Linked DNA regions of Homo sapiens. The protein of the gene in region 1 purifies or fractionates together with the protein of each later gene. This does not show direct contact. Each region holds a gene or a part of one and is shown in the gene's direction. Other genes may lie near its edges.

Region 1 (3,664 bases):
TTTTTAGAGTTAAAAAAATTTTTTAAAGTTAATCCCAGTCTAACTTTGTACTTACAGAGAAGCTGTTTCCTTTGCCTACTTCCATAAAGCTTAACGGCAGAGGCACGGCCGGGAGTTCAGCCTCCTTATTCTCTAACTACCTCTTTCCTGAATGGTGATGCCACTCAAATGCTTTCAGGGGCTTTACCACTGGAGGCTTTTGAAGTAATGTGTAGCATTGGCATAGATCTTTAATTTTTCCATGTAGGGAAGCAATTTCTACTTTTTTAGATGGTGCCGCTTTATTTTCCTTGTATTGCTACATTTCTTTAAAATGTCTTATGGCATAAGTGTAGAAATATACACATTTTCAAGGAACATTGAAATTCTAATTTGTAACTTTTTCATGAAATAATGTTGTGACACTCAGTAAAGATTCATCTGGAACCAGAAATCTCTGACTTAGGGCCACAGTGACTAAAGTGATTTTGGTCCTTGAGCTTTTTTTGGAAGTTGTGAGTAGAGTGACTTTATGTCTAGTAGCATTAATAACGTTAAAAATGAGCTGGCATTGCACTGTGCACAGAGGGTCACACAGACAGAGTGAAAAATGTCACAGAGAGAAGTACCCGAAAGGACATGCAGATGGGAGATGAATTCCTTCACACACTGGTCTTTCTCCCTTTTGTGAATCTCACAACAAATGTCCTCAGTTATAGAAAAATGTGTGTGAGGGTGTGTATGAGTGAGTGTGTGAGGGTATGTGTGTGTGCATGTTGTAAGAACATGTTAGAGTGTGAGTGTGGAGTGTGTCTGCATGTGTGTATGTGTGAGTGCATGCATGCACGTGTGTGTAAGAGTGTGCATGTGCATGTATGTGAGACCACAGGCATGAGATATGTGAGAATGAGTGTGTGCACATGTGTGAGTATGTGTATTGTGTATAATGTGCATGAATATAGTGTGAGAGCATGAGTGTGTGGATGCGTGTGCAAACATGTGAAGTATGTGTGAAGGTGTGTATGCATGAGAGTGTGTGAAGGTGTGTGTGCATGAGTGTGTGTGAAGGTGTGTGTGCAGGCACATGTGAGTTCATGTGAAAGTGTGCATGAGTGGGCATGTGTGTATGTGTGAGGGTGTGTGTGTAAGTGCATGTATGCAAGGGAATGTGACAGTGTAAAAGAGTGTGAGTGTGCGTGTGTGAGTGGTGAGGATGTGTGTGCGGGCACATGGGTGTGAAGCATGTGTGAGTGTGTAGGATAATGTGTGGGTCAGTGTGTATGCATGTGTGCCATGTATCCTCTCCCCAAACAGACCATAGACTCCTCAAGGGCAGAGACTATGATTTTCTCTTTTCCTAATTTAAGGGTAAGCATAGACTAATAAGTTGATCATAAAAATTGGTAACAATTGGCCGGGTGCGGTGGCTCACGCCTGTAATCCCAGCACTTTGGGAGGCTGAGGTGGGTGGATCACCTGAGGTCAGGAATTCAAGACCAGCCTGGCCAACATGGCAAAGACCTGTCTCTACTAAAACTACAAAAATTTAGCCAGGCATTGTGGTGGGAGCCTGTATTCGCAGCTACTTGGGAGGCTGAGGCAGGAGAATTGCTTGAACCCGGAAGGCAGAGGTTGCAGTGAGCTGAGACTGGGCCATTGCACTCCAGCCTGGGCAACAAGAGTGAAACTCGGTCTCAAAAAAAAAAAATTGGTAACAATTGGTTACAAATTGGCAACAAAAATTTGGTGACTGTGGACCCCAAGGCATGTGCCTGTAGTCCCGCCTACTTGGGAGGCTGAGGTGAGAGGATTGCTTGAGCCTAGGTACTCAGGTCCAACCTGAGTAACATGGTGAGAACCCATTCTTAAAAAGATTTTTTGTGGGGGCTGGAAACTAAAGCAAATTGATGGCATGATGGCTAGAGTAAGGTTCTCAAACGTGTCATCTAATGGTGACAGCTACCATGGGTTGAGCACATTCAGTGTCTCACGCTTGGCTCTAAGTGCCTCAGCAGATCTGTGCGGGTACCCGAGGGACACAGAGAATGTGAGGAGCCAGTATGGCTGGCAAAGTGAGTGGACACAGTCATCTAGTTCTTCCTCTTCTCCACTGTGAATGAGGGGAGCTGAGGGCAGTCCTGGGACATGGCTACAGAATTCAAGATTCTTGAAGGGTCATGCGCTCCAGCTTCTGTTAAGGCTGACAAGCCCTCCAGCCTGTTTCTGAAGCTCTTTAGGCTTAGAGATTCTGTGACCCCCTTGTCTACCCTTCCAGCTCTTTTATCACAGATGGGTCGAGAAGGCCAATTGGACGGCCTCCTGCCAGCAGGTGCAGGTGTGCAGTGCCTGCCCGTCCCTGTCCCTGATGCCTCTTGGCTTCCCTGCAGGTTTGCCAAGCTGCTGCTGCGCCTCCCAGCTCTGCGTTCCATTGGCTTGAAATGCCTGGAGCACCTCTTCTTCTTCAAGCTCATCGGGGACACCCCCATTGACACCTTCCTCATGGAGATGTTGGAGACCCCGCTGCAGATCACCTGAGCCCCACCAGCCACAGCCTCCCCACCCAGGATGACCCCTGGGCAGGTGTGTGTGGACCCCCACCCTGCACTTTCCTCCACCTCCCACCCTGACCCCCTTCCTGTCCCCAAAATGTGATGCTTATAATAAAGAAAACCTTTCTACACATGAGACTTTTATAGGTGGACTTTTGTATAGATGTTAAAGGTAATACGCTTTGCTGTCTACAGGGCTGGGAGACTTTCTGGAAGTTCTTGGGAAAACTAATCAAGCCTCTGTACATACAATTGGTTTAAATTATTTTTTCACTTGCCCTGGAAAGCAAACAAATGAGTAATAAAATAATATGTGTGAAATTGGCACTGCTGGAGCATGGGGTGTGTTATTGTGCTACAGGGAAGTCGTCTCAGACATAGAGAAGGGATATCAGAGGCTGGGGTCGAGGCTGGGGCTGGGGTCCTGAGACCATAAATCCCAGAGCACAATGCCTGAATCTAAGCTGGGCTTTGCTGCACAGCCAGCTTTGCCCCAGGGCACATTCTGGGGAGACTGGGAAGAGATGCTGTCTTTCAAAATTAACTTGGTTTTTTGTTTTTGTTTTTCTACTAAGAATAATGAGCAGAAAAAGACTTATTCTAATTGGAGGCAATTGAGTATAAGGCCACAGGAGAGATGTTCTCTGTCCTGGGAGTTGGTGGAAGATCTCCGGTTCTGGGAGTTGGTGGGAGGCGGTAACAAAGGAATAGATTTTTCTGTTATATCATGAGCTAGCAATGATAGTCAAAAGACTAGAGTACACCAAATTTATTTTCTAATCTTATCTAACCCTGTGCAGCCTGTTCTTAAAAGGGAAAGAGAGGAAACCTCTCCCACCTTCTAGTCTAGGATGTCCAGAGTCACCTAGTTTTTGAATCCCAACCATTGGCTGGACAATGAGCTCCTTGAAGGTATAGACTGTGTCTGACACCACTGACAGCCCATATAGCTCACTGTCTTCAACTCACGTACCTGCCATCTGCAGGAATAGGGCTTAACAGATACACAAATCGATGTATGCTGTGAATTACATGGTACCCCCTAGGGTTGTAAATGTAAATGTGCAGCCTGAACAACTGCACACGGCAGTCCTGCTTTACCTTTTCCATACCACCAGAACCTGACCCAGGGCCTG
Region 2 (3,811 bases), on another chromosome or scaffold:
TTCAGAAATTCGCCAAGATCTTGGAGTCATTTGGGATCAGTTTGAAGATACGGTGTTTACTATCACACTGGAAAGCTCATCTGGGTGCTTTTATGTTAAGAAAAAGTGTTACATGGCTGGGCACAGCGGCTCACACCTATCATCCCAGCGCTTTGGGAGGCTGAGGCAGGAGGACTGCTTGAGCCCAGGAGTTCAGGACCACCCTGGGCAACAGAGCAAGATCTCATCTCTATCAAAAATAAAAAAAAATTAGCCAGGGGTGGTGGTGCGTGTCTGTAGTCCCAGCTACTCACGAGGCTGAGGTGGGAGGATCACCTGAACCCAAGAGGTAGAGGCTTCAGTGAGCCATGATGGTGCCACTGCACACCAGCCTGGGCGACAGAGCGAGACCCTGTCTCAAAAACAAAAAAAAGTGGACATAGTTGTGAATGTGGGAGCTTGCTGCCTAGTTCCTATTTCTTGGGAAAGTGGCCTCCAGGCTACTCATATTAGTTTGAAGAGAGTGATCAGAGTGTGCCCGTGAGGGCTGTGCTTCCCCTGAGCCCCGGAGCTCCTGAGTGGCTTGGTGAATGGTGAACCCACCTGCTGTGGAGTCGGGGCTTTTTAAGCTGGAAACGGGGCGCTCAGGTGCCCGTGACGTTTTTCGTGCTGAAGAGGAAATTCGATGTCTTTGCTGGTGTGGAAAGTCTTGGGTTTTCTTCCTCTTCCGCCCCCGTGCTTCTGTGTTCCCTTTAGAAACGGAGGGAGGGCACTGTTGGTTTCTGTAGATTGGGGCTGAGTCTCTTCTGTCTCCAGGTCTGTGTGCCCACTCCCCCCAGGTGGAGGGGACCGAGAACGTGGGGCTGGGGGCTTTTCAGGATAGAGACAGAGGACCTCAGGGCCCTGCCCTATGCATTGTGTGTCTGTGCTGTGACCATGATCAAGCTATTCTGGTCTCCAGGCCTCAGTTTCCCCATCAATTAAATACAAGGGGGTTGGACTAGATTATTAAAACAGCTATTTCTTTTTTTTGTTTGTTTTTGAGACGGAGTCTCGCTCTGTCGCCCAGGCTGGAGGGCAGTGGTGTGATCTCGGCTCACTGCAACCTCTGCCTCCCGGGTTCAAGCGATTCTCCTGCCTCAGCCTCCCCAGTAGCTGGGATTACAGGTGTGCACCACCACACCCGGCTAATTTTTGTATTTTTAGTAGAGATGGGGTTTCACCGTGTTGGCCGGGCTGGTCTCAAACTCCTGACCTCAAGTGATCCGCCAGCCTCGGCCTCCCAAAGTGCTGGGATTACAGGCACGAGCCTCTGTGCCCAGCCAAAGGAGCTGTTTCTGTAATCTGCTGACCCTTTCCCCCAAGCTCAGTGTGCAAAGCATAAAAGCCATTCTTGTCACAGGGACCCAGAACCTTCCCACATTCCACTCCCTCTTCAGCAGGTGGCTGTTGGCGGGGTGCCCAGAGTGCCCTGGGGCTCTGCAGAGCTCAGGATGAGCATCACTCATGAGGTGATTTCCAAGGTTTTTTCTGATTCAGCCCTGGATGCCGCATTTCCACCTTGAAGAGGGAGAGAAGGTTGAGGCTTCTGGTGCAGTAGGAGTTTATGGCTTGAGGTTCTGCCCAGCTCTGTGACTCTTGGACATCTCATGAGTTGTGTTTTGGGACTGTGATGTCTGGAGAAGTGCTGTTTCCTGAATCTCTCTCACTGTCCTTGGTTGTAGTGAAATTGAGCTTTTACATGAAACAAACCTCGAGGCCTTTCATTTGATGCAGCAGAAGTTCCATCTCACCCTTGCTGTTCAGTCGGGGGCAGCGAGGACCGTTTTTCCTAAGTCTGCTTGTACTTACACCAGTTATACTCTCCCCAGACCTATTAGGAGCTGAAGGTAGCCATATCCCAGCAAGACACGTGAGACTCGGAGTAGGGTCTGTGTTTTCCATGGTGACGGGATCTTCGCCTTGGTTAAAGGCGCATGCATTAATGGTTTAGGGCACATTTGTCCAACCTGTGGCCCACAGGCTGCGTGTGGCCCAGGACAGCTTTGAATGTGGCCTAACACAAATCCGTAAACTTGGTTGGGTGCAGTGGCTCATGCCTGTAATCTTAGCACTTTGGGAGGCTGAGATGGGCAGATCACCTGAGGTCAGGAGTTTGAGACCAGCCTGGCCAACATGGTGAAACCCCATCTCTACTAAAAATACAAACATTAGCCAGGCGTGGTGGCGGGCACCTGTAATCTCAGCTACTCGGGAGGCTGAGGCAGGAGAGAATCGCTTGAACCTGGGAGGCGGAGGTTGCAGTGAGCTGAGATCATGCCACTGCACTCCAGCCTGGGTAACAGAGCAAGACTCTGTCTCAAAAAAAAAGCCAAATCTGTAAACTTTCTGAAAACATTATGAGATTTACACACAGACCTACCTACCTTCCTTCCTTCCTCTCTCTCTCTTTCTTTCTCTCTCTCTTTCTTTTTTCCTTTTTTGTTTTTTTTAGTTCATCAGCTATCATAGTGTTAGCGTATTTTATGTGTGGCTCAAGACAATTCTTCTTCTTCCAATGTGGCCCTGGGAAGCCAAAACATTGGACACCCCTGGTTTAGGGCCTTGTGCAGCACTGAACCACAGATGGGACTTGGTGACAAATGACACGAACAGAGGGACCCCTGAACTCCCCCTCTTCTGCTGGGCCAGGGAATAAGCCTACATTCTCCTGAGCCCCTGCCTGGTCAGGTGGGAGCTGGGCACCTGCGGTCAGCTGGCGTTTTCTCTCTAGAGTTTTAGAAACTCTTAACACACCTCTTCTCCTGGCACATTTTACTGGCTGGAATCCCAGCTGCTTTGGGTGTGGGGTTGGTGGCCGGGGAGCCTCCGGGTTCAGTCGGCCTGAGGTCTGGAGGGTGGAAGGGGTATCTTAGGGTCCCCTGGGGTGCAGCAGGGCCTGGGCGGCACCCCTGGCTCCCATTCCAGGGCTGTGTCCCGTAAAACTCGTTCCATCCACTTCTGCCTGCCCCGTCTCCTGCTGAGCTTGACGTGCAGTGCGTGGGGTGAGCTTTTCACCCCCTACCACGGGTGGAGCCCGAGGAATCGTGGAGGGAGCTTGGTCTCCCCGAGGTGCTCAGTGAGCTGTGGGGACTGAGGGCGTGAGCTGTGGGGACCGGAGCCCTTCAGGGCCCGGGTGTGACTGAAGGCGTCAGTGTCGGGGGTTTCCCCAGGATACCTGCCATCGGCCTGGCTTGGTTGCGGTTGTGGCTGGGGGGTCTGTGGTGAGCTGTGCAGGTCAGGGGTGGATGGGCTGCCGCTTCCGCTGCCTTCCCCAGACCCCTGCTGTCTCCAGAGCTTGGATGCTCCCCTCAGTGGCAGCTGGAGCCCAGGGCTTTGGACCGACTCTTCATACCGCAGATGCCTCTGAGCACCGTGTGTTCGGGCCGTGTGCACTGTGCCTGGCCTGCGCCCCCACCGAGGGCTGCTACTGGTGTAAGCCGGGGAGGCCGAGGCAGCGTCTGGGTGGGGTTCGCCCGTGGGGGCTGCTTCGTGTCCCCAGGTGCTGTGGTGACTCTGGGAGCAGGGCATCCCTCTGCCGTGATGGGGCCCCTGTTCCACTCCAGGGCTGCCCGCCGTTTGCTGTGCACTCACTGCCCTGTTGGGCTCTCTCTGTGGCTGTGCTGCCCGCACAGAGCCTTGTGTGAGGGCCGAAGAGGAGCCTGTGTCCACCGCTGCCCCCACCGCCGAGTGTGGTGCTTCTGCGTGCAGCCTGGGGCGGCCGCCTCTCTTCCTGGATCAGCAGCACGTCCTTCCTGCAGCTGCTGTCTCTCCTACCTACCCTGCGCCCCCT

Evidence for each region.
Region 2: the proteins of RXRG (region 1) and SNX8 purify together in Homo sapiens (affinity purification with mass spectrometry; one large-scale study listed by BioGRID and IntAct). This does not show direct contact.

The regions. Positions count from the first base shown.
Region 1 is NC_000001.11:165,400,113-165,403,776, reverse strand, and holds the end of RXRG (retinoic acid receptor RXR-gamma), read left to right. Parts: intron 1-2,366; coding exon 2,367-2,514; 3' UTR 2,515-2,855; downstream 2,856-3,664. UniProt on the Homo sapiens protein: Receptor for retinoic acid. Retinoic acid receptors bind as heterodimers to their target response elements in response to their ligands, all-trans or 9-cis retinoic acid, and regulate gene expression in various biological processes.
Region 2 is NC_000007.14:2,258,643-2,262,453, reverse strand, and holds part of SNX8 (sorting nexin-8), read left to right. Parts: intron 1-3,811. UniProt on the Homo sapiens protein: May be involved in several stages of intracellular trafficking. May play a role in intracellular protein transport from early endosomes to the trans-Golgi network.